Homo sapiens: one gene and its partners. The protein of the gene in region 3 interacts with the protein of the main gene of each other region in a pairwise test. Each region holds a gene or a part of one and is shown on either strand. Other genes may lie near its edges. The genes, in order: VPS9D1, COL26A1, TTC23L and ZNF784.

Region 1 (4,296 bases), on a different chromosome or scaffold from region 3:
GCAGCCGCGCCAGCCCCAGGCTGCTGCCCCCCGACCCCCAACCCCGGAAGCCGACGGCTGCGGCCCTCGCAGAGCCTCCATTGCATGCTGTCCCCGCCCGAGCCCAGCGCAGCCCCGCGGCCCCAGGACAGTCCCCCCACGCCCCCACTCCAACCCGGCCCCGTGGGGTCTCCCTCACCCCTGGGGGACACCGCATCTGGATTGCCAGACAAGGACAGCTCGTTCGAGGACCTGGAGCAGTTCCTGGGGACGTCTGAGCGGCAGGGCCGGGGCCGTGGGGTACAGCCGGAGCCCCAGCTGCAGCAGCTGAAGACCGCGGTGGAGGAGATCCACAATGCCGTAGGTGAGGCCAGGCCCTCCCTGGGAGAGCCGCCGCAGCTCTTCACCCCTGCTTATTGGTCCGTTTCAAGCTTCTGTTTGGGGAAGGGTCTGTTGATCAGAGACTCTGATCAGACTTACATCCACCCAGCTCACGCCTCAGCCCTTCTCATTTTGGAAACAGTGTGGTAGAAACGGAGTTTCACCATGTTGGTCAAGCTGTTCTCAAACTCCTGACCTCAGTTGATCTGCCCACCCCGGCCTCCCAAAGTGCTGGGATTACAAGCATGAGCCACCGCGCCCAGCCCAGAGTTTTCTAAGAACCACTGAGGGAGGCCCAACAGTCCAGGCGTCATTCTCACTGTGCTGCCCACACACTAAGGAACTTGGTCAGGGTCCCCACCCACAGGGGGTTGGATCTAAAGTCTTCCCTGGTTCCTGCAGTTTTGGGTAAAGCCCCTTTTGAGAAAAGGATCATTCTCCGGTTTCTTCTCAGGCTGCTGGCCCAACAGGGCAGCAGCTGTAGGTGACCGTTTCCAGTCCCGGACTCCCTGCCCTGGGCCGAGGAGGGTCAGGGGTGGGTGCAGGAGGCTTGAAGGCGGTGGAAAGAGGTTTCTTGGGCGGAGAAAGGCCCCGTGGCTTAGAGCCACTTGACCCAGCAGGGGAGGAGCCTCTGTGGACGTCCCCGGCTCTGTTCCTAGCAGACAGGCTGCTCTCGCTGACCCTTCTGGCCTTCGAAGGCCTAAACACAGCTGCCTCCAAGGACCGCTGCCTGGCCTGCATTGAGGAACCCTTTTTCTCCCCGCTGTGGCCTCTGCTGCTGGCCCTGTACAGGTATGGACCCAGCTGTACAACCACCTGCGTGGCCTAGTGTCTTCCAGCCCAGTCCCCCAGGAGGCCTGCCCTGCTCCCTGGCACTGTCTGCTCCCCTCCATCCCCAAGACTCGTGTTTGCTCCCCCTAGCCTGTGCTTTACCCTGAGGCCATCCTCAGGGGCTTCCAGTTTGCAGGTAGGATTATTGCCACTCTCCCGTGCCTGGGGTCTTGGCAACGCTGGGGCTTTTTGCTTGAGATACATAGCCAGTTTTCTCCAGGACTGAGCTCCAGCCACAGCCCTGCTTCTGTCCCCAGGGCAAGGTCCCTGGGGCAGCTTAGCCTGGCCTCTCTCTGCCCCAGGAGCGTGCACCGAGCCCGGGAGGCTGCCCTGAGCAGGAGCATGGAGCTCTACAGGAATGCACCCCCCACCGCCATTGGCATCCCCACCAAGCTCCTCCCCCAGAACCCTGAGGCCAAGGGGGCCACTGGCTACCCCTACTGCGCGGCGGCCCAGGAGCTCGGACTGCTGGTCCTGGAGAGCTGCCCCCAGAAGAAGCTGGAGTGCATAGGTCAGCAGGTTCGAGAGTCAGGGGGAGGGACAGGCTCCCATCCCAGTAGGTGACCTGGAGCCTGTGTCTTCACCACTGAGCTTCTCTTGTCACGTGCCGGTGGGGAGGTTGGGGGACCAGAACAAAAGTGGTGTCTGAGCAACATCGCCAGGGTCACCGTGGCTCTTCCCAGCCGTGCACATCAGGAGGTGGGTGGGTGGGCGGGGTATAAGGGGTGGCTCAGGCTGCTGGACGGGGTTAACTGCCCCTGAAACCCTGTCTGGGGCGCAGTGCGGACCCTGCGGATCATCTGTGTCTGTGCGGAAGACTACTGCCCCACCCCAGAGGCCACACCCCAGGCCGGGCCCCCGCCCATCGCTGCAGCTGCCATGTGAGTCCCAGGAGGGCGAGGTGTGGCCAGGGAGGAAGGGCCCTAGAAAGGCAATGGTCACGGGAGGGACTATCTTCCTGCCCCTTAGCCTTGTGCCAGCTGGCTGCACTGTAGAAGCAGGAGGGCCGTGTGGGCCCAGCCCTGGCTCCGCAGTACGGGAGCTCCCTTTAGGGACAGCCTCACCATGCCCAGCTGCCTTCCGGTGCCTCTGCGCAGAAGGGCACAGAGATGGCGGCCAGCACGGCCAGGATGGCTCCACAGCTGCTGGGTTTGCGGAGTGAGAGGCTCCTGGCCCCAACCCAAGGCCGCTATGCCCTCCCGACAGTGGTGCCGATGACCTGCTGCCCATCCTGTCCTTCGTGGTGCTGAGGAGCGGCCTCCCTCAGCTGGTGTCGGAGTGCGCGGCCCTGGAGGAGTTCATCCACGAGGGGTAGACCCTGGCGGGTCAGGGTGGGGGTCTCTGTGCGAAGAGCAGGGACCTCATCCCTCAACCTAAACGGTGGTTGTCAGTAGCAGCTGGGGAGGGTAGCGTGTGGCTCCGTCACAGCCATGCCTTCGGGCAGCCCCTGTGGGTCCACCTGTGCAGAGTGCCTGCTGCCACATGTCCCGTGGCCCTTCGCTTAGCTCAGCCTCTCCCAGACAGCAGGAGCTGGGGGCTGTCCCCTGAGCAGCATCTGCCTGGGGAGGGGATAAGGATCCAGTGCCATCCCTGGCTCTACCGTCCAAGGACGAGCACATAGTGGGTGGGAAAGGCCTCCTCTAGCCCAGCCGCCCTGACAGCCCCACCTGCCCACCCTCAGCACCCAGGTCCTGAACTGGGAGGGCAGACACTACCTTCTGGAGGGCCGGGGGTATCCTTCTGTTCGTTCAGATGACACCGGCTGCCCCTGCCATCCATGCAGGTACCTGATCGGAGAGGAGGGCTACTGCCTCACATCACTGCAGAGTGCCCTGAGCTACGTGGAGCTGCTGCCCCGGGGAGGCCTGGCCAAGTAGTACAGCTAGAGCCCAGGGTCCCTGCAGGGCCTGGCCTCGCCTCCCAGGGCTGTCTCTCCTACACCTGGAGCCATGGGATCTACTGAGGACCATCCTGGAGCCTCACGCTGCTCTGCACATGGTGGGGGCTTGTCCACTGTGGTGTGCTCTCCAGCTCTTCACCTTCCTCACCTCACATCTGACCCTGGAGCTTGGGGTTGGCACCTCTGCCCCGACAGAATGGGGCTGAATCAGCTCCAGGAGGAACCAGGCCCTGCTCTCCTGTGTAGGCCTCAGAGAGGCCAAGAAGGGAAGCTTTGGGCTTCGGTGGGTGCAGGCTCAGCGATGAACATCTGGCTGGGGCAGCTCCTGGGGAGCATCAGGGAAGAGGGGGCCATGAGCCGGCCAGCAGTGGAGACGGCAGTCCAGTTTCTCTCCCCTCTGACCCCTAGAAGGGGAGTTGTAGCCCCATGAACTAGTTTCTTGTCTGGGTCAGGAACAAGGGCCGGCTGGGGCCTGGGGTGCAGCTGGTGTCAGGGTATGCTGTTTGCTGATGGGCAGGGACACCCCTGCAGGGTCTCGGGCTCTGAGCCCAGGACATTCCCTGCCCCTTACTCACCTTGGCTGTGGGCTGTGAACATTCCGGGACCCTGGGCATCTTATCTAGGTCCGTGCAGCCCAAGGGTCAGCCCTCTTGACTGTCACATGCTGCCCCCACCCAGCCTAAAATAAAGAGCTCACTGCTGTGCTTCGCCGTGTGGCTCCCTCAATCCCCACCCCACTGGCCAGGCAGCACAACCACCCCTGCTGCCCATGGCAGAGGCCGCTGAGGATGTGGGGGACGAGCCACAGCCCAGCCCCAAACCAAGCCTGGCCCAACCTCTTGAACATCTGCCAGCCTCCGAGACCCTCTGCATAGAAGCAGGGTCCTCTTGGGGCTGTGCCTGGCCAGGCAGGTGTGGGCTTCACCCTCTTGGACAGGAGAGCTCTGCAGGGCATCAGTGGGTGGGAAGGGTGGGGTGAGGCTGGGGTCCAGGTCATCACTGGGGACCTGAGCCCAGAGCAGTCACCCGAGGGTCTCAGGAATCATCGTTCTGTGCATGGCGACACACACATGCTCTGAGGTGCACAGAAGGCTGCCGGGCGTGGACAGCATCTGCCAGGGCGGTGTGGGCAGATCAGGATGGAGGGCTCTTCTGCAAGAAAGGCACCCCTGGCACCTTGAGATGCCATGAGGAGGCAGGTGGCA
Region 2 (7,031 bases), on a different chromosome or scaffold from region 3:
CCTGCAAAAAAGCAAGAGGTGAGGACCATGAAGAGCGGGAGCGAATGGGGACCTCATTCTGGCATTTGGTGGGTTGGAACTTGGGGACATCTGCAGAAACTTGGAAGGGATCATTTTAGCACAAACAAAAAGAGGCTCAAACAAGTGTGGAATCTTCCAGAACTCTTTCCACCAGGATAAGAACAGGGAGAGGATATAATTAGGTTTAGGGAGGATGTGGATGAATCTGTGGGCAATGGATTCCTAAAAAGGATACCAGAAGGTGTTGGGGAGGCTTGGGGCACATTGATATTCCAGAGTGTGACTGAGTCTCTTTGCCCAGAAAGCCCAGCGTGGGCATTGCAGGCACCTGGTTGTTGCCTGGGTGAGTTACAGGCTGGAGCTGGCTTGGGCGTCACATGTTTCTGTGTCTCATGAGCTATCTATCACAAGTGTCCCTTGTCCTTGAGATCCAAGATGTCCAGAAGCTGAAGGCTTGGGGACAGCAGTGGTCCTTGCAGCCTTGGCCTTCAGTAGTGTGTTTACCGGGGCTTGGCTTCAGTTGACAGGCAATGATGACAGGGCTGTTTCTTGACAAAGAGTGCTTTAATTTCATTGTTACTGCTCCTTGTTAACGTCTGATTTTTTTTTTTTTTTTTTTTTTTTTTTTTTTTTTTTTTTTTTTAAAGACAGGGTCTTGCTCTGTCACCCAGGCAGGAGCGTAATGGTGCAATCATAGCTCACTGCAGCCTCGACCTCCTGGGTTCAAGCAATCCTCCCACCTCAGCCTCCTAAGTAGTTGGGACCATAGGCATGGGCCACCATGGCTGGCTAACTTTTAAATTTTTCATAGAGGTGGGGTCCTGCTATGTTGCCCAGGGTGGTCTTGAACTCCTGGCTTCAAGTAATCCTTCAGCTTTGGCCTCCCGAAGTGTTGGAATTACAGGTGTGAGCCACTGTGCCTGGCCAAAAAGCAGTTTTTAATTGTTAGTTTGTTCAAATCAGGATCTAAATAAGTCTGCTTATTGGTTATTCTGTCTTTTCTCTCCCTTTTAGTGTAGGAAAGTCTTCCCCCTTTGAGAGAGTACTTTTTCCTCCACGCTGTTGACTTGTTGAAGACCAGTTGTTCTCTGCGATGTCCACGTACTAGATTTAGCTATTTCCTTCCCAGTGGTGTAGTTAACTTGATCTGCAATGTCCACGTACTAGTTTTGACTAATTGCTTCCCAGTGGTGTAATTAATTGGATCCTCTGCCCCCTGTATCTCTTCTATTTTGGAAGTTAGGTTGGAAGGTTTGATTAGATTTATGGTCTCTATTTGGGCTTGCTGGGAGAGACAGAAATTCTTCATAGGTGGTCTAGTCTACCATATTATATCAGGAGATGCTCTGGACTGATGTGTGTGTCCCCACCAAATTCATATGTTGAAGCCCTATCCTCCAATGTGGTGGTATTTGGAGGGGGGACCTTTGGAGGTAACTAGATTTAGATGAAGTTGTGAGGGCTGTGCCCCATTATTTGATTAGGGATGTTATAAGAACAGGAAGAGAGGCCAGGTGCGGTGGCTCATGCCTGTAATCTCAGCACTTTGGGAGGCCCAGGTGGGTGGATCACCTGAGGTCAGGAGTTTGAGACCAGTCTGGCCAACATGGTGAAAACCCGTGTCTACTAAAAATACAAAAATTAGCCGGGCGTGGTGGTGCACACCGGTAGTCCCAGCTACTTGGGAGGCTGAGGCACTAAAATCGCTTAAGCCCGGGAGGCGGAGGGTACAATGAGCTGAGATCATGCCACTGCACTCCAGCCTGGGCAACAGAGTGAGACTCTGTCTCAAAAAAGAAAAAAAAAAAAAAAAAGAAGAAGAGAAATCAGAGCTCTCTCTCTTTGCCATGTGAGGACACAGCACAGCAAGAAGGTGGCTGTCTGCAAACCAGAAAGAGAACCCTCACCAGGAACTGAATCTGCCAGCACCTTGATCTTAGACTTCCCAGCCTCCAGGGCTATGAGAAATAAATGTCTGCTACTTAAGCCATTCAGTCTGTGGTATTCTGTTACGGCAACCTTGAGCTGACTAACAGAAGGATGTGGCTTTATTCTGGAAAGCTGGGTGTTAAATATTCAGCAGAACACCACTGTCTACAAGTCTCCTCCACTGTCTCCCTTCTTTTTGTTGCAATTTATTTGTTGAAGAAACTTGGCCTTCTAGATTGTTCCTTTTTCAGGATTTTGTTGGTTATATGCTCATGGTGCCTGTGAACATGTTCATCTGTCCTCTTTATTTCCAGATAATGGGAAATTAGATCAAGAGCTTGGTTGGATCTAGTTCTTCCTCCTCCTTCGTTTTCTATTTTGGCAGAATTACATCTTGGGTGCTGTAGTGTTTTTCCATTGGAAATCACAACGTCTGGTTGTCTCTCTTTTTCTCTCGTGATGCTTGAGGTGTTGGTGATCATTGCGTATGTCATTCTTTCATTAAGGATCGCAAAGTGGATGCAAGACAGGCAGGCCCCCAAATTGGGGCTTAGCCAGGAGGGTTCTTGGCTTCACCCAGGAAAGAATTCAAGGGTGAGTGGGTGGTTTCAGACAGCAACTTTAATTGATGTGGCAGTGTACAGCTGCAGCAGAGGTCCTGCTCCTTGCAGAGCAGGGATACCCCATAGGCAGTGTGCCCAGACTAGCAGCTCAGAGGCAGTTTGGCACTATTTATACTTACTTTTAACTATATGCAAATTAAGGGGCAGTTTATGCAGGAATTTCTAGGATGAAGGTGGTAACTTCTAGGTTGTTGGGTTGTTGCCATGGAAAGGCATGGTAACTTCCGGGTGTTGCCCTGGCAAATGGTAACTGACATGGTGCCCTGGTGAGTGAGTCTTATGGGGATGTGCTTCGTCCTAACCTGTTTTAGCTAGTCCTCAATTTGGTCCGGTGTCAACCCCAACCTCCAGAGTCAAGTCCCGCCTCCTACTTCAAAGTAGTACTATAATTTTGACTCTTTTTAAAATTCGTAATTGCTAGAATACTTATAATTTCCCCCTTATTTACTATTTGTAGGTAGAAAAAACTCACTCAAAATCTGGCTCTTTCCAAAAAAAAAAATTCTTTTTGCAAATGTAAGCAATTTGTGTGTGTATGTGTGTGTGTGAGCGTAACAGTGTGTATGAGTATGTGTGTGTTTGTGTCTGTATCCTCCTCCTTTTCTTACACAGAGGTAATATGCTAGTTACTCTGTCTTCAACTTGGCCTTTTTCCATCATAACGTGTTGTGGAGATGGCTCTATCAAAAAGCAAAGATGGGGGGGCATGATGACTCACGCCTGTCATCCCAGCACTTTGGGAGGCCAAGGTGGGTGGATCGCTTGAGGTCAGGAGTTCGAGACCAGCCTGGCCAACATGGTGAAACCCCTTCTCTACTAAGAATACAAAAATTAGCTGGGCATGGTGGCGCATGCCTGTAATCCCAGCTACTTAGGAGGCTGAGGCAGGAGAATTGCTTGAACCCAGGAGGTGGAGGTTGCAGTGAGCTGAGATCACGTCACTGCACTCCAGCCTGGGTGACAGAGCAAGACTCAGTCTTAAATAAATAAATAAATAAAGCAAAGGTAATCTGCATCTTTTTTTTTTTTTTTTTTTTTTTGAGACAGAGTCTCGCTCTGTCGCCCAGGCTGGAGTGCAGTGGCGCAATCTCGGCTCACTGCAAGCTCTGCCTCCCGGGTTCAGGCCATTCTCCTGCCTCAGCCTTCTGAGTAGCTGGGACTATAATCACCCGCCACCACACCCGGCTAATATTTTTGTATTTTTTTTTAGTAGAGTTCTGCATCCATTTTTATGGGTCTGTTGTTCTGTACAGTGTGAGTGACTGTATTTATTCAGCTAGTCCTCTACTGATAGACACTTGTGTTGGTAAATGGCAAACACATGTTTAATTCTGCTAGATAGCGTCAAGTTTCCCTCCACTGGGGTTACAGCATTTTGCATTCCCATCAGCAGTTTCTTCTTGGGGTACATTTTGAAGAGTCCATTTTATTTTATTTTATTTATTTGTTTTTTGAGATGGAGTTTCGCTCTTGTTGCCCATGCTGGAGTGCAATGGCATGATCTCGGCTCACCGCAACTTCCGCCTCCCAGGTTCAAGCGATTCTCCTGCTTCAGCCTCCGTAGTAGCTGGGATTACAGGCATGTGCCATCATGCCTGGCTAATTTTGTATTTTTTGTAGAGATGGGTTTCTCCATGTTGGTCAGGCTGGTCTCAAACTCCCGACTTCAGGTGATCCACCCGCCTCAGCCTCCCAAAGTGCTGGGATTACAGGCATGAACCACCGCGCCTGGCCTGAAGAGGACATTTTAAATGATGCTGGTTGATATGGCCTTTCAGGGGTAAGAATAGACTTCCCTGATCTTATAGCACCTGCAAGTCCTGGCCACCCCTAACCTTTTTGGGGCTTGGGGCAAGACTAAAGATGAAGACCATTCACCATTTGGCTAGATATTTAAAAGTATAAAATCAAGCTGACACACTGTTTGTTTTGTTGTTGTTGTTTGTTTTGTTTTTGTTTTTTGAGACGGAGTCTGGCTCTGTTGCCCAGGCTGGAGTGCAGTGGCACGATCTTAGCTCACTGCAACCTCCGCTTCCCAGGTTGAAGCGATTCTCCTGCCTCAGCCTTCCGACTAGCTGGTATTACAGGCATGCACCACCATGCCTGGCTAATTTTTTGTATTTTTAGAAGAGATGGGGTTTTGTCATGTTGGCCAGGCTGGTCTCGAACTCCTGACCTCAGGTTATCTGCCCACCTCATCCTCCCAAAGTGCTGGGATTACAGGCATGAGCCACTGCACCCTGCCCACCTTTCCTTCATCTATACCTGCTGCTTCAAACTCTCTCTGTCTCTGAATTCACTTTCTTGTGGTTTCGTCTAAGCCAAAGTGCTTGGTGTGTCCCCTCCTCACTCAAAATGCCTCCCTCTTACCTTGACTCCCCCCTCTTTTGGTAGAACCACAAGCACCCTTCCTCCAGGAAGTCTCTCTGGATTTACCTCCCAGCTTTCTGTTCATCTCATTTGTGGGTAGCCCCTGCACCTGTGATTTGTGGGTAGCCCCTGCATCTGTGATTGTGGTTTTGGTTCTAGAACTCACTTCCCCAGTTTCCCTCCTTGCAGATGGAGTCATTTCTCCTTCCTCATTTACTCCCTACAGGAGTGGCTCTGAGCAGCCGTCCTTGGGCAAGCGTGCATGAGCTGGAGCTTAGCCCTGCCCACCACCCACCACTGCCTCTTGGAAATGTGAGCCGCTCCAGGTCAGGCATTTAATCACCTTGCATTCACTGAGCCCACGTGTAGGTAGGGTAGAGGCTGGGGACTCAAACGTGAAGGCAGGGGGCTGTGCCTGGTGGCCTGCATGGAGGAAGAGCTCAGCAGACTCTGGGGAAGTGGATGATCACATCCATGGGGACTTGTCCCTCCGACTGGATTGCATGCCTCTGCAGTGTTGGACCCCTGCCTTTGCTCTCTGGTTCCCTACATTCAAGAATTGGCAACTGTGATTAGCTATGGTGCCTCATGCCTTTAATCCCAGCACTTTGGGAGACCGAGGTGGGAGGATCACTTGAGCCCAGGAGTTTGAGACCAGCTGGGACAACATAGCCAGACCCTGTCTCTGTAAAAAAAAAAAAAATTAAAAAATTAGCTGGGTGTGGTGGTGCACACTTGTAGTCCTGGTGGAAGCTGAGGTAGGAGGATCACTTGAGCCCAGGAGTTTGAGACCAGCCCGGGAAATATAGTCAGACCCTGTCTTTGCAAAAAAAAAACTTTAAAAAATTAGTTGGGCATGGTGGTGCACACTTGTAGTCCCAGGTATTTGGGAGGCTAAGGTGGGAAGAACGCTTGAACCCAGGAAGTTGAAGCTGCAGTGAGCTATGATTACACCACTGCGCTCCAGCCTGGGTGACAGAGTGAGACCCTGTCTCTGGGGCAGTGAGATGTTTCAGACCCAGCCTCCGTCCTTGATGAGCTCAGAGACTGGTTGGGGAAAACAGATCCATGAGCAAGAGTGGAATTTGGTGTGATACAAATGTGTGCAAAGTGAGCTAGGGGAGTTAGGGTTTGTGGGAGCCTGGGAGTCTTTGTGCCTCAGTTTTCTCATCTGTAAAATGGGAATGACTTCAGTACTTCATTAAGTTGTTCTGGGGCTTACATGGGTTAATATTAATAATGTTCTTAGGAAAAAGGATAGTAAACCCTCTGTTCATGAATGTGACCGTGGACTGCATTCATATGCCTTGCAAAGGTTGCAAGGACGGGGGAGTTCCACAAATATATGAAGCCTTGGAATCTTTTTCTGGGGAGCATTTTGTTTTTTGAGACGGAGTCTGGCTGTGTTGCCCAGGCTGGAGTGCAGTGGTGCGATCTTGGCTCACTGCAACCTCCGCCTCCAGGGTTCAAGCGATTGTCCTGCCCCAGCCTCCCAAGTAGCTGGGATTACAGGCGCCCACCAACATGCCAGGCTAAGTTTTGTATTTTTAGTAGAGCTGGGGTTTCTCCACGTTGGCCAGGTCTTGAACTCCTGACGTCAAGTGATCCATCTGCCTTGGCCTCCCAAAGTGCTGGGATTATAGGTGTGAGCCACCGCACCTGGCCTTCTGGGGAGCATTTTGTTAGGATTGTGTTCCTGACCACATACTTAGGGAAATGTTCTAGTGGATAGAGACTAAATGTTGAGGACTTCTCAGAGGAGTCAACATAGGAGGTGGGTTTTGTAGGATGAACAGGAGAGCTTGAGGCAGTGACTGGGGCATTCTGGGCAGACAGACAACTGTGTAAAGGCTTGGAAGTGTCATTAGCTATTGCCTGACATATAGTTAGTGGGACTGAGTTCAGAGTGGCTGGACTAATGGGATGTGGTGGCTCATGCCTGTAATCCCAGCACTTTGGGAGGCCAAGGTGGGAGGATTGCTTGAGCTCAGGAGTTCAAGACCAGCCTGGGCAACACAGCAAGACCCCGTCTCTACCAAAAATAAAAAATTAGCCAGGTGTGGTGGAACACACCTGTAGTCTCAGCTA
Region 3 (7,031 bases):
AATGAAACACATGAATTTAATTTCAATACTATATTTTATTTCAATATATACAAAATATGCTAAAATTATTAATGAAATATTTTATCTTTTTATACTCTTTAAAATACAGCACATATTTTACATTTACAGCACATCTTAATTCAGACCAGCAATATTTCATGTGCTTGATAGCCACATGTGGCTAGTAGTTACCAAGTTGGATAGCATTTTTTTTTTTTTGAGACAGAGTTGTGGAGCACCAGATTCTGTTGCTGTTTGGGGGGCCCCTATGTAACCTGCCACAATCCCTGGTGGACTGAACAAAGGAGGGGTGAATGTGGGAATAAAAGACAAGAGACAAAAGAGTATACTTGGAAGAAGGGGTCAGGGGGCACCTTGCCTCTAGTGGACGAAGGCCCTGAGCTGTACACAGCCCTCTGTATTTATTAGGCAAAAGAGATGGTGAGAAGGGGGGTGGAAGAAGGGGTCAGCTGCTTAGTCCAGAGTAGGCTTGCAAGACTTCATTCCTCAAACAACAGGCTCTAGATGTCACAGTAGATAACCTCAGCGCTAGGGAGTGATTGCCTCCAGCAAACCCTCTGTCGGCAGGAGCACTCGTGAGTTTGCTCACATCCTGCATTCATGATAAACAGTTTGCTGTTTGATCATATCGTCTCCAGTGGAATGCTGAGTTGGTCACATCCCATGGGCCTTCGGCTCCCAGCACAGAGTCTTGCTCTGTCACCCAGGCTGGAGCGCAGTGGTGTGATCTCAGCTCACTGCACCCTTCGCCTCCTAGGTTCAAGCCATTCTCATGCCTCAGCCTCCTGAGTAGCTGGGATTACAGTCTCACTGTGGTATTTTTTAGGAGATACAGGGTTCCACCATGTTGGCCAGGCTGGTCTCGAACTCCTGACCGCAAGTGATCCATGCACCTCGGCCTTCCAGAGTGCTGGGATTAGAGGTGTGAGCCACTGTGCCTGGCCTGGATAGCATAAGTTTAAATTCATAAAATATCTTAAGGTTAAGGGTTATATGACTATAAAAATTGAAGTTCATAAAAATGTCAAGTTCACAGTAAAATATCTGGGAAATAATCGGATAATTTATATCGAACATTACTAATCAGAATTCCTATTCATGATGGTAACATATGGAATCAATTATAAACCTGGCAAGGCAGACCTTCCATTCAACCTCCTATTCTTTTTATTCTGACCATCCTTTGAGATGTCTGACTGGTCAGGATTCTCCAGCCATCTTTCTCACCTTCTATAACATGATGTTCAAAGCTAGTTCAGGGATTTACATTCTCAAATCATTTGTCAAGACCTCAATGTTTCTCATTCCTTTGAAGTCCCTGAGGTTGAAGCTTGCCACCTTTGGTCTTACCTTAATGTTATTCAAGGCTTAATTTAAAATATTTCGGGCTTATAATTTTTACTATCCATAATTAGCAATCTGGTGACTCCAATAGATTTAACTTCTGCTCTAGGTCTGTGAAATATGCAGCTTAAGCAAAATTTGCTATTGAGATATGATCTCTTTTTTTTTTAACTGCCCCTTGCAGAACAGGGCTAGCTCATAGGCAGCATGCCCAGAGTCAGCCGACTTATGATCTCTTGCCACAGATTTCCTCTCTCCTCAATATTTTTCAAACATTCTAAAGACTGCACATTCTTTTCTCATTCATTTATTCATCATTTAACAGGCCATTATTTGTTTTTACTATGAGCCAGATATCAGGTTTTCAGAAACAAATGAGGCTCAGCCCCTGCCGTATTGGAGTTTACTTTGCCAGCAGGCAAAGAAGACTCAGAAACAAACCAAAGAAACAACAATAAAAAAATCAAACAACAATAAAAAAAAATCACAGTGTACTAGCAGTTTGGGGGAAATTTTTGAAAGCCCTTTGGAGGCTGCCTTTATTGCTACTCCAGTGAAAGACTTCCAGGAATGATGACATCTGAGTTGTGTCTCGAAGGAGGAGTATGGAATTCACCAGGCAGAGAAAAGGAAGTTCATCACCTGTCTTCTGATCAGGTCACATCCCCAACCTTCCCTGGCTGTCCCATCAAATTAGCTTGTCTACTGAAAGCACACTCGTCTGTGGGCAGAAGGCAAGCCTGCCTGCGCTTGGGCCTCAAGAAATGTTGCTTCCCTATCTACACAACCTGGTTTGCCCACGTGCCTCTTGATAAGTTAATTAGAATAGAACTCTAGAAGGATATTAGCATGTCATTTTTCAAACCTGGTGTAAAAGATTACAGTTGGCATACAGCTCTTAAAGGTGGCACAGACCCAAAGAGTGAGCAGCAGCAGCAAAAAAAAAAAAAAAAAGGTTACACTTGGCAGTTATTTTCTTCTTGTGCTTTTCTGATTTTTTTTTTATTTAAACATTGAACATTCACTCTTTAAGCTTTTTGTGCTTTTCTGAATTTTCTTTTTATTTAAACATTGAACATTCACTATTTAAGCAATCAGTGGAAAAGAAAAGTAAATTTTATTTTAAAAACTACTCAGTGGCTGAACTTTTGAGTTATTGTGAGTATAAAGATGAGTCCTTTGGGAGACTTATTTATACTTAAAATTTCTACCGTTGCTCCTAAGATCTCAAAATTCTGTTTCTTCTGTAGCACTTTATTGATTTTTCTGGTGATGTTAGGATATAGTTCTTTTTAACACAACTAGGGATATTTCTCCTCTGAATCTGCACTTGATGTAGCGTGGGGTTCCCTCCCTGTCTCTGGTGGGACCCGTGTCCTCTTTTCTTGGCCACCACATGTTGAAGCTTTTAAGATATGAGAAGACATGCAAAGTCCAGCCTCAAAATGTTGGTTTCCTTTCCCTTATTTCATTGTATCCATTTTCTTTCCTTGCTTGGATCAGAATTTTAGAACACAGATATTCCTGGGGATCCTCCAGTTCAACACCCTCATTTGTAGAAGAAGAAGCCCTGTCCTGGAGCTAATGATATACTAATAGCTAACATGAAAGGAACACTTAGTGAATGTCACACACTGTGCTGATTTATGAGTATTATCTCATTTAATCCCATAACCTCATCAAGTAGGCATCCATATTCTCATTTTACAGAGAAGTAAATTAATAACTTGGTTAGGGTCATGTGATTAGTAAGCAGCAGAGCTGTACCTCTATAAATCGGCTTCTTCTGAACTACCACATTGCTGTCTTAATGCTAGGCTTTGAGGGCGACGTGAGTTTACTGCCTAGCTTTATTCCTTCCGGTTTATGTTAGAAATCATGTCCCTATCCCCTAGTTGGGAGAGCTATGCCCTTCAATTTTACCTTGTTTGAGATGGAGAAGGTTAAATCCTGAATCCTTGCCTCTCTCATACCTACAGGTCACAGCAAACCGAGATCCCAGCTCACCAGCAAACAGATGAGTTGTATCCCACTGGTGGGTGTGGAGAGAGTGAAGAGGAAACTAAAGCTAAAGAGAAGGAGAAGGCCATAGACTGTATGTCTCATCCCAAAGAGAAATTAGCCCAATCCCAGAAGAAAGTAGCTCAGCTGATTAAGGAAAAAATGGTAAAACAAAAAACTCACTAAAATTTTGTTTCCATTTAAAAATATGTTCCTGTTTAGAGAAGCTTTGCCTTCGATGCAGATTGAAGCATATGAAATAGAGGAAGGTGTCATATTTCTTTGTAAGTAGCAGAAAACAAAGCAGAGCCTACTTAGGTAGCCAGCCCACCTTCTGGTTCCATGCATGGTTCATTGTCTGTTCCTCCTTGGGGCATTTCTGGTCCTAGCTTTAAACTAAAAATTAGGCCAGGTGCAGTGGCTCATGCGTGTAATCCCAACACCTTGGAAAACCGAGGCGGGAGGATCTCTTGAGGCCAGCGTGAGTAACATAGTGAGACCCTGTCTCTACAAAAAAAATTAAAAATCAGCCAGGCATGGTGGAGGGAGCCTGTAGTCCCATCTACTTGGGAAGCTGAGACAGGATAGCAGCTTGTGCCCAGGAAATTGAGGCCACAGGGAGCCCGTGATTGTGCAACTGCACTCCAGCCTGGGTAACAGAATGAGACTGTGTCTCTAAGAAAATAAAGTAAAAATTTGAAAAACCTAAAAATTATCATTTGATTGTTTTTGTTGCTGTTACCTTTAACTTAAAATTAAAAAAAAAAATAGCTGGGCGTGGTGGCTCACACCTGTAATCCCAGCACTTTGGGAGGCCAAGGTGGGCAGATCACCTGATGTCAGGAGTTCAAGACCAGCCTGGCCAACATGGTGAAACCCCATCTCTACTAAAAATACAAAAATTAGCCAGGCGTGGTGGCGCATGCCTGTAATCCCAGCTACTTGGGAGGCTGAGGCAGGAGAATTGCTGGAACCCAGGAGGCAGAGGTTGCAGTGAGCTGAGATCATGCCATTGCACTCCAGCCCGGGCCGACAACAGCTAGACTCTGTCTCAAAAAAAAAAAAAAAATATATATATATATATATATATATACACACACATATATATACACACACATATACATATATACGTATATATACAAATACATATATGTGTGTATGTGTGTGTGTGTGTGTGTGTGTGTGTGTGTGTGTGTGTGTATCCATCCTGGAAGGTTTCAGGATGCTATCTCTTAGGTAACAAAAAGGCTGGGATAGTAAGGCAGGAGGTTGAGAACAGGTAGGCAGGCAGGTCTAAGCTCTGGCCTGGAAAGGATATGGGTAAGATGCCCTTGGTTACAGTGGAATCATAAACAAACCAAAGGGCCAGAAACAGAAGGTAGCAGTGGAGGTCAAAGATTCCAAATATGCATTTCTAAGAGCAAGTCAAAGACTTGAGTCAAAGATCTCAGAGCAGGTTTGTAAGCATGAGTATTCAAAATCCAGGAGACTGAGACAGCAAGACGTCGACTCTCATTATTAGAACACAGGCACCAGCCTGCTTCCAGAGCATGATTTATCAACAGAAGAGCTTGTACCTTGACTTCCTGGCTCCTCCTAGCCAAGGGGAAAAAAGTAATCTAGAGAGGTTTCATTTTCTATCATTTGCCTCTGAAGTATCTCTCTAGATGGATATTTGTAAATTTATCTCTGTAAATGACCCAAGGACCTTGCAAAGGACAGTCATCCTGGCCTGGACCCATTAGTGATTCACAAATCCAGGCTAGAAGGATCATTTCTAAAAACACACAAGTACCATCTGCCATGGAGTGTAAGTGGGGGTTTTCAAGGCTTAAAAACTCCTTGGCCAGATTGGATAATGACAAAGATTTAGATCTTAGGAGAGAAATCTGACTCAAATCCCAAGCTCATCAAATTGTATAAAGTGAACAGGTGCAGTTCTTTGTATATCAGTTATAGCTCAATAACGCTGTTTTTTTTTTTTTTTTTTAAATCAAACCCAACCTAGTACTCCTAGCCCTGAAGGGCAGGGGATGCCACATCAGCAGCAGAAGTGCTGGGATGACATCTGGAGCCCGTATTGGTTGTCCCGGTTTCTCCAAGTCAAGGAGTTCGAGGATGAATATACAATGTCCAGAGCCAAAGCTTTGGTCTCCCATTCCAGTGATTTTTTCATGGCATGATGCTTCTTCCTCGAAAGAGAACTTAGTATTTGCTGTGGTCAGCCCATGGTGAACTCTAAAAAATGCTGACTAAATGGATGTTTTGGAAGCATCAGGGGAAGTTTCCTTCTACCATTGCTTGCTTCTGTATATTTGAGCAGGGGGCAGGTAAAACATGAAGTTGGGTAGGAGATAGGAATCAGTAAGGAGTGTATTCCTTGGAATAACCTATGGTACTGCTGTATCTTATCTAACATTACTCTTTAAATGGGTTACTTTGGTTACCTGTACATTATTCTTCAAACGGGTTACACTTAGATCTGACCTAACAACACTGAATCATTTGGACACTATTTTTTTTTCCTTACAGTAACTCCATGAGGTAGATGGTACAGGTTTCCAAACCTCAGAAAAGGAAGCTGAGATCAAAGTGGCCTGCCCCAAAGCAACACAATCAGTAAACAAACATTAGAACCAGGGCTGAAACTTTAGGTTTTTGGTTCCTTGAAGTGCTATTTTCACTTAACCAGGAAAAAAATGCCTGACCCTATCGACTCGTTCAGCCAATAATGGCTGTGTTTGTAAAGTCACTGAAATATATGACTTGAAGATACAGTTCGGTGATTTCTTAGAGAGCTCTACCTGTCATTTCTATAGGGGTAGAGGATTATTTTCCCCAACCCATCTTTAACCTTGCTAATAAATGATTCATTCAGCAAATATTGAATGTGTTACACCTGTGTGTACTGGGCAGATAACAGCGAACATGAGGAATAAACTTCTGTCCTCAAGGGACTTATCTTCTATTTGGGGAGATAATAGACAAACAATAGTAATAGCTAATAAAATATTAGATAGAAGTAAGTACTATGAAGAAAAAGTAAAATAGGTAATGGGATATTGAGTGATGAAGTGGTGTCTATTTTAGATAAGGTGGCCAAAAAAGGCCTGTTGATAAGAAAAGTGAAAATGAAATGAGAAAGTGAATGACATGGAAGAGTGTCCCAAGCAGTGGGAGCAGCACGTGCACAGCCCTACATTGGAAGTTAGCTGGTGATGTTCAGGAACCGCTGGTCAGTGTAGTTCTAGCAGACAGAGTAGGAGGAAAGGGTGGTAGAAAATGAAGTCCAGAGGTGATTGGCATTGGGTCAGATTATGCAGAGCCTTGGAAGCCATGGTGAGGACTTTGAATTATATTAAGAAGAAAAAGCGGGAAGCTGTTGGAGGATTTTGAACAGGAAAGTCATGATCTAATTTATATCTTAAGATATAAACACATAAAATACGTTTTAAAATCCATAAGTTTCTAATAATAATAACAAGCTATTTGATCACAATTAGAGGATGCTAGTGAACAATTCATTTTTCTGAAAGCTAGTAAAGGGCAAGAATAAACCATGTGTCCTGCCTTTCCAACATGAACTGTACTATTGGGTAACCAAAGAGTGGAGGAGGAGAAATTCTCCTTACAGAATTATTCCAGCTAATGTATGAAGAAGGAAT
Region 4 (7,901 bases), on a different chromosome or scaffold from region 3:
TCACTGCAGCCTCAACCGCCTGGGCTCAGGAAATCCTCCCACCTCAGCCTGCTAAGTAGCTGGGACTACAGGCATGCACCACTACACCGGGCTTTTTTTGTTTTTGTTTTTTGTTTTTGTTTGTTTGTTTGGTTTTTGGTAGAGATGGCTGTCATGATGTGTTGCCCAGGCTGGTCTGGAACTGCTGGGCTCAAGGGATCCTCCTGCCTCTGCCTCCTAAAGTGCTAGAATTAGAGGCGGAAGCCACTGAACCCCACCCAATTCACCCATTTAAAGTGTATAATTCAATAGTCAGTATATTCATAGTTGTGTGCACATATCATGATAGTCAACGTTAGAACACTTTCATCACCTCAAAAAGAGATCCCATGCCCTTTAGGTATCACTCCTCTATTCTTCCTTCCCCCCAACTCTCTATCCCCACCCAACCTAAGGAACCACAAAGCTACACTCTGCCTCTATAGATTTCCCTATTCTGGTGTTAATAGAATCTTAATAATATGTGGTCCTTTGTGCCTGGCTTCTTTCACTTAATATATTTTTAAATTTTATTTTATTGACACATAATATTTTACAGAGTTTGGGGTACATGTATTTGTTACACGCATAGAATGTGTAATGATCAAATCAAATCGGGGCATTTGGGGTAACCACCATCTTGAGTGTTTATCATTTCTATGTGTTGGGAACATTGCAAGTGCTCTCTCCTAGCTACTTTGAAATACACGGACTGGGCGTGGTGGCTCACACCTGTAATCCCAGGACTTTGGGAGGCCAAGGCGGGTAGATCACCAGGTCAGGAGTTCTAGACCAGCCTGGCCAACATGGTGAAACCCCATCTCTACTAAAAACACAAAAATTAGCTGGGCGTGGTGGTGGGCACCTATAATCCCAGCTACTCAGGAGGCTGAGGCAGGAGAATCGCTTGAACCCGGGAGGCAGAGGTTGCAGTGAACCGCGATCGAGCCACTGCACTCCGGCCTGGGCAACAAGAGCGAAACTCCATCTCAAAAAAAAAAAAAAAAAAGTATGTCTTCTCTGTAACTATGTTGGTACCCATTAACCAACCTTCATTCATCCCTCCTTCCACCACACACCCTTCCCAGCCTCTAAGTTAGCATAATGCTTTAAAGGTTCATCCATGTTGTCATGTGGATCAGTATTTTATTCATTTATGGCCAAATAATATTCCACTCTATGGATATACCACATGTTGTTTATGTTTATGGACATCTGGGCTGTTTCTGCTTTTTGGCTGTTATGAATAGCATTTGTTTACAAGTTTCTGTGTGAATGTATATTTTCAGTTTTCTTGGGCACATAGAAAAATGAAAGGGAGAGGAACTGCAGAGCCATCTAGCTAATTCTATCAGCCAATTTCTTTTAAAAGGCAGGAAATCTAGGCTCCGTGAGGAGAAGTGAAGTGCTCAGGTTTTACAGGAAGATAGAGATGGAGAGAAGCGAGGCAAATCTGATTCCAAGTCCAAGACTCTTCCTGGCATTTTCTTTTATTTTTTTATTTTTTTATTTTAAGATGGAGTCTTGCTCTGTCTCCCAGGCTGGAGTGCAGTGGTGCAATCTTGGCTCACCGCAACCTCCGCCTCTCCAGTTCAAGCAATTCTCCTGCCTCATCCTCCCGAGTAGCTGGGATTACAGGCGCCCACCACCACGCCCGGCTAAAATCTTCTTGCAATTGTCTAATGGCTCCGTGTAGCAGGGCTTCTAGCCTCAAGTCATGCAATAGCCTGTTAGTGTTATGCCAGGTACCGAGGGACTCAGAAGCCAGACAACAGGTGAAAAGGCAAGGAACCCAGATTCATTTTTAAATTTTAAAATTTTATATTTATTTTATTTTATGTTTATTTATTTGTTGAGACAGGGTCTCACTTTATCACCCAGGCCAGAGTGCAGTGGTGTGATCTTGGCTCACTGCAGCCTCAACTTCCCAAGCTCAAGCAATCCTCCTGCCTCAGCTCCCCAAGTTCCTGGGACTACAGGCGTGCTCCACTGTGCATGTTAATTTTTGTATTCTTAGTAGAGAATACCAAGCCCAGGCAGAACCCACATTTATTGAGCACCAGTTGGTTCCAGGCATCACACAGACCTTTGGCATTCTCAATCAGTGGCATTCTAACTACAACCCTGCCAAATGACATTATGGTGCCCACTTTGTAGATGTCAGCTAGACACTTAGAGGAGACATTGCTTGCCCAGAGTTGCACAGCAAGCAGATAAACGGATCTGGACCCAGGTTTGCCTGATTTGAAAGCTTATGGTAATTCCACTAAACAGTGCTCTCCTCTGCAAATATTTAATAGCTTTAGTGGGGGTGGGGAGGAAAAAAAAGGGAAAAAATACTCAATAGCCTTAAGCTCTGGTACAAAGTTCTTCTATCTGCATGAATTCAATTTCTCACTCATTCATTCACCAAACACTCACTGAGCCATATACATGCCTTCTCTATAGGGATGTACAGAGGGGATACAGAGATGACATACTTCCAGCTCTCAAAAAAGGGAAACTGGAGGATGAGTTCTGGGTGCTATGAATGATCTCTTTTAATAAAGAGCTTCTCAATAAGAAATAGACCAGGCGCAGTGGCTCATGCCTGTAATCCCAGCACTTTGGGAGGCCGAGGCGGGCCGATCAGCTGAGGTCAGGAGTTTGAGACCTGCCTGGCCAACATATGGTGAAACCCTGTCTCTACTAAAAACAAAAAACAAAACAAAACAAAAATACAAAAATCAGCTGGGCTGTAACACCCTGGGAACAAATCCGAACGTTCCTTCTAAACCAACGCAGGCCGACTCGAGGCTCTAGCAGTCAGTGGAAGACCTCAGCGGAACTGAAGAGGCTTTGCTTTGTTTCCACAGTAAAGGTTTTTGTGGTTACCTCTGCACCACTTGCGATAACGTAATGACGTGTCACACCTGTAGTCCCAGCTACTTGGGAAGCTGAGGCAGGAAATTTGTTTGAACCAAGGAGGTGGAGGTTGCAGTGAGCTGAGATCACGCCACTGCACTCCAGCCTGGGCTGTTTCTCAAAAAAAAGAAAAGAAATGAAATTATTTCACACCCAAGAGATTAGCGAACATTTTAAAGTTTGAGTATCAGATATTGATAGGAATGTTAAGCAACAAAGGTCCCTATTTATTGCTAGTGGGAGTGCCAAATGGTAGTAATTATTATAGCTAACTCATAGCACCTGCTGTGTGCCATACATTGTCCAAAATACTTTATATATAATGACTTCTTTAATCATCATAGCAACTGTGTAAAGTAGGTTTTATTATCACCCTCATTTTGCAAATTAGGAAACCTGGACAGAAAGAGCTGACTTAAGCATTAGACACAGTAGTAGATACAGTGCCTAGGGCCCATGATACTCTTAGGGACCCACAACATTTAAAAATTTATTTTAGGCCGGGCGCAGTGGCTCACACCTGTAATCCCAGCACTTTGGGAGGCCGAGGTGGGCGGATCACCTGAGGTCAGGAGTTCGAGACCAGCCTGGCCAACATGGTGAGACCCTGTATATACTAAAAATACAAAAATTAGCCGGGCATGGTGGCGGGCACCTGTAATCCCAGCTACTCAAGAGGCTGAGGCAGGAGAATCGCTTGAGCCCGGGAGGCAGAGGTTGCAGTGAGCCATGATCATGCCACTGCACTCCAGCCTGGGCGACAGAGTGAGACTCCATCTCAAAAAAAAAAAAATTATTTTAAAATCAAAAGAAAAGAAGGGAAATATAGCTTTGGAAGACCAAGGCAGAAGGATCGCTTAAGGCTAGGAGTTCAAGACCAGCCTGGGCAAGGCAAGACAGCAAGATCCCCATCTCTATAAAAGAAGAAGAAAGGAGGAGGAGGAGATAATTCAGCCTAAGTGGTGTTTATCTTTATTTTATACCAACATATCACAAAATATAATTTCATATATATTTATGAATGAAATGATCATGCTTAGGATCATGTTTAAGTATCTCCTATCCTGCCCTTTCAAGAAAACTATTTAAAGATGTTTCCAAACTCTTCCATGTCTCTTCTCAGTGGTTTGTCACAATGCTTCTACAGTGCTACACAAAAGAAAGAGAAATGGTCCAGAGAAGTGTAGTGACTTATCCAAGGTGATACCACCAGAATGACTAAACGGGGCAGCTAAGAAGAGCCCCGTCCTTGATGCTGCTGAAAACCCCGCGTTTTTGAGCTCTTTCCTCCCAAACATAACATCAGCTTGCGGGTTTTTGCGTCCTCCCAGGACCACCTGTGTTGCTGTTTACTGAATATTTTTCTCCACACTGCCTTTTTTTTTTTTTTTTTTGACAGAGTCTCTGTCACTCAGGCTGCATGCAGTGGCGAGATCATGGCTCACTGCAGCCTCGACCTCCCGGCCTCAAGCGATCCTCCCACCTCAGCCTCCCGAGTAGCTGAGAATACAGGCATGAGCCACCGCACCCGGCCTACACCGACGTTTATAAACTTGGCGTCATTACGTTGTCATGAGCAGTGCAGAGGTAATCACAAAAACGTTTACCGTGGAAACAAAGCAAAGCTTCTTCAGTTCTGCTGAGGTTCCCCTGACAGCCAGAGCCTCGAGTCGGCCTGCGTTGGTTTAGAAGGAACGTTCGGATTTGTTCCCAGGGTGTTACAGGCATCCTAGCGCCACACAGAGCGTACCCTCGGAGGGACAGACAGGTAATTAGAGAGGGAACAACTCACATTCTCCCGGGCTCAGCCGCCACGCCCCGCCCCGCCACGCCCCCTGCTGCACCACGCCCCCTCGCAGCCCCGCACTGCGCCTGCGCAGTAGCTCTTACGCCAGTTCGAGCCCCACCCCCTTTCAGAGCGAACATTGGCCTTGGGGGCGGGGCTTGGGCACAAGATGGCCGCTGCGCGCCCAGAGGCCCAGAGTCGGAGCTCACCGACTCCGGAGTCGCGATCCCAGGAGCCACTGGACCTGGTGCGGGCAAGGAAGGGGCCTGGGCGTGGGGCTCGAGGTGGGAGGAGGTCGTAGTGTGGGGGGCGGGTCCGGGGCGTGGCCTATGAGGGGGTGGGCGAGGGAGGTATTTAGTGCTATGGCCCTGGGGGTGGGGCTTCTTGTGGTTTCGCGAGGGGCGGGGCAGGGGAGGAGACTATGTCATGGTGGGCGGGGTGGGGGAGGGACCTATGGGTGGTGGGCGGGGCCTGGATGGGGGCGGAGTCTGAGGACGGTGTTGTCTTGTGGGACGGGTTTGGGTCCAGGGAAGGGGGCTTACCAGGGATAATTTGCATAATTTGGGTGGAGCCTTGTAAGGGGCGGGGCCTCATAAATTCTAGGGCTAATTCTAGGGTAGAAGGTTGGGAAGGTGACCCTGAAAAACGTGGGGGATTATGATTGGAGCACCTATGTCGGGGTAGGGGATAATTCTTCAAGGGTCTTAGTGATGCTTCTCGAATGCCCAAGGGAGAATTTGGGGGTAGAAGTGGGTGGTCTAGGTGACTTTGGAACTTCCTCCACGTTACCCCACTCAGAATTAGACTAATTGAGGACATTCATTCATTCAACAAACATTTACTGAGCTCCTACTTCGGCTCTGTAAATAGAGAAGTGACCAAGACAGACAAGGGTTGTGTTCTTTTGGAGCCTGCAGTCTCTTGAGAGGAGAGAGACAATAAAGGAGAGTTACTGTGATATGTTCTATAAAGGAAATAAAAATTGAGCCAATTTCTATAAATTGAGCCAAGAGTAGGGGTGGGGCAGCTAAATTTAGACGAGAGAAGTCAGCTGGGTGCCGGCTTATGTTTAAGCTGGGGTCAGAGAGATAAGTGGAGCTACATCGCCACAGATATTATAGTGACGATTTGGGATAAGTCATTTGGAGCCACTGGAGGGTTTTGAGTGCGAAAAATGACTTGATCTGATTTACATTTTCAAAAGACCTTCAGGCTATTCCTGGGAGGTGGGTTACAAGCCAGCAGAAATAGGAACAGAGATGCCCTTGGGTTTTTCAATTTTGGAGGCGCCAAGTGATGGGGCTTTAACTAGGGTGGAGGACAAAAGGTGGGATCCATGATATATTTTGGACAGGAGAGGAAATGTTGATGAGGATACAACAGAATCCTGGAGGATGGGCCGGGCGCGGCGGCTCACGCCTGCAATCCCAGCACTTTAGGAGGCAGAGCCAGAAGGATCTCTTGAGCCCAGTAGTTGGAGACCAGCCTGGGCAACATAGTGGGACTCCCTCTACATTAAAAATAATAATAATAATTTTTGTTTGTTTTGCTGTCTAAGATGGAGTCTTGTTCTGTCGCCTGAGCTGGAGGGCAGTGGCATGATCACATCTCACTGCAACCTCCACCTCCTGGGTTCAAGCGATTCTCGTGTCTTAGTCTCCCGAGTAGCTGGGATTACAGGCAGCAGCCACAACACCTGGCTAATTTTTGCATTTTTAGTAGAAACGGTATTTGCCATGTTGGCCAGGCTGGTTTCGAACTCCTGACCTCAGGTGATCTGCCTACCTCAGCCTCCCAATGTGCTGGTATTACAGGCCTGAGCCACCGTGCCCAGCCAGAAATAATTTTTTTTTAACTAGCTGGATGTGGTGGTGCATGCCTGTAATCCCAGCTACTCAGGGAGATGAAGTGGGAGGATCGCTTGAGCCCAGGAGGTCAAGGTTGCAATGAGCCACGATCGCGCCAGGGCAACAGAGTGAGGCCCTGTCTGAAAATAACAGAGGAGCCCAAGCTTTAATAATTGGGGCGTGCTGGGGCGGTCCTGAGGCAGGTTCCACAGGCTCCTCTTTCTTCTCCTCTTGCCCAGGTCCTGGTGCCTGATGACTGCCGGCCTGGCACACCCCCGAGTGACCTCATCGAGATCCAGGTGGTGAAGGTGACGGACACCACGCTGGTCCCTGAGCCCCCGGAGCCAGGTTCTTTCCACTGTGCCTTGTGCCCTGCTGCCTTCCGGCTGGTTTCCGAGCTGCTGTTCCACGAACATGGCCACTTGGCTGGGGCCGAGGGAGGCGGGCAGGGTGGGGACCCGAGCCGGTGCCACGTGTGCGGCCACAGCTGCCCGGGCCCCGCCAGCCTGCGCGCGCACTACAGCTTGCACACGGGGGAGCGGCCCTACCGCTGCGCGCTCTGCCCCCGCGCCTTCAAGGCCTTGGCGCCCCTGCTCCGGCACCAGCACCGGCACGGGGTGGAGCCGGGCACCTCTCGGAGGCCTCCGGACACAGCGGCCGTTGCAGAACAGAGGCCCGGGGTGGCCCCGGAGAGGGCGGAGGTGGTGATGGCGGCGGCGGCGGCGGGCGCAGCGGTGGGGAAGCCTTTTGCCTGCAGGTTCTGCGCCAAGCCCTTCCGCCGCTCCTCAGACATGCGAGACCACGAGCGCGTGCACACTGGCGAGCGGCCATACCATTGCGGCATCTGCGGCAAGGGCTTCACCCAGTCCTCGGTGCTTAGCGGCCACGCCCGCATCCACACTGGCGAGCGCCCGTTCCGCTGCACGCTCTGCGACCGCACCTTCAACAACTCCTCCAACTTCCGCAAGCACCAGCGCACCCACTTCCACGGGCCGGGGCCGGGGCTGGGAGACTCTGGAGGCCAGCTGGGCTCGTCGGCGGCTGAGGGGTCGGGGAGCGGGTGTGGGGTAGGGGACCCTGCGGAGGAGGGGCGGGGGGAGACCGCGAAGGTGAAGGTGGAGGCCGACCAGTAGGCTGCAGACCAGGGACATGGGTTAGTTAAGGCGGAGGTACGAGGCCGACCCGGGGAGGGGGACGGGGTGGGGAAACGGAGGCAGGGGACAGAAGAGGGGAGATTGGGGGAGAGATGACAGCTGCAGGGATGGTTGTGAGCCGCTAGTGATGGAGAGCAGAGGGAGAGGGCCAGGCTCCAGACTCCCACACGCCCACACAGCACCTCTGCCAGG

The links.
Region 1: the proteins of TTC23L (region 3) and VPS9D1 interact in binary tests that used the Homo sapiens proteins (3 or more experiments, as listed by UniProt).
Region 2: the proteins of TTC23L (region 3) and COL26A1 interact in binary tests that used the Homo sapiens proteins (3 or more experiments, as listed by UniProt).
Region 4: the proteins of TTC23L (region 3) and ZNF784 interact in binary tests that used the Homo sapiens proteins (3 or more experiments, as listed by UniProt).

Annotation. Positions count from the first base shown.
Region 1 is NC_000016.10:89,706,633-89,710,928, reverse strand, and holds the end of VPS9D1 (VPS9 domain-containing protein 1), read left to right. Parts: coding exon 1-343; intron 344-980; coding exon of another isoform or gene 981-1,022; coding exon 1,023-1,152; intron 1,153-1,493; coding exon 1,494-1,702; intron 1,703-1,972; coding exon 1,973-2,072; intron 2,073-2,397; coding exon 2,398-2,502; intron 2,503-2,974; coding exon 2,975-3,068; 3' UTR 3,069-3,795; downstream 3,796-4,296.
Region 2 is NC_000007.14:101,365,854-101,372,884, forward strand, and holds part of COL26A1 (collagen alpha-1(XXVI) chain isoform 1 precursor), read left to right. Parts: intron 1-7,031.
Region 3 is NC_000005.10:34,842,143-34,849,173, forward strand, and holds part of TTC23L (tetratricopeptide repeat protein 23-like), read left to right. Parts: intron 1-15; exon of another isoform or gene 16-964; intron 965-3,344; coding exon 3,345-3,531; intron 3,532-7,031.
Region 4 is NC_000019.10:55,621,538-55,629,438, reverse strand, and holds the start of ZNF784 (zinc finger protein 784), read left to right. Parts: upstream 1-4,872; 5' UTR 4,873-4,877; coding exon 4,878-4,955; intron 4,956-6,794; coding exon 6,795-7,688; 3' UTR 7,689-7,901. UniProt on the Homo sapiens protein: May be involved in transcriptional regulation.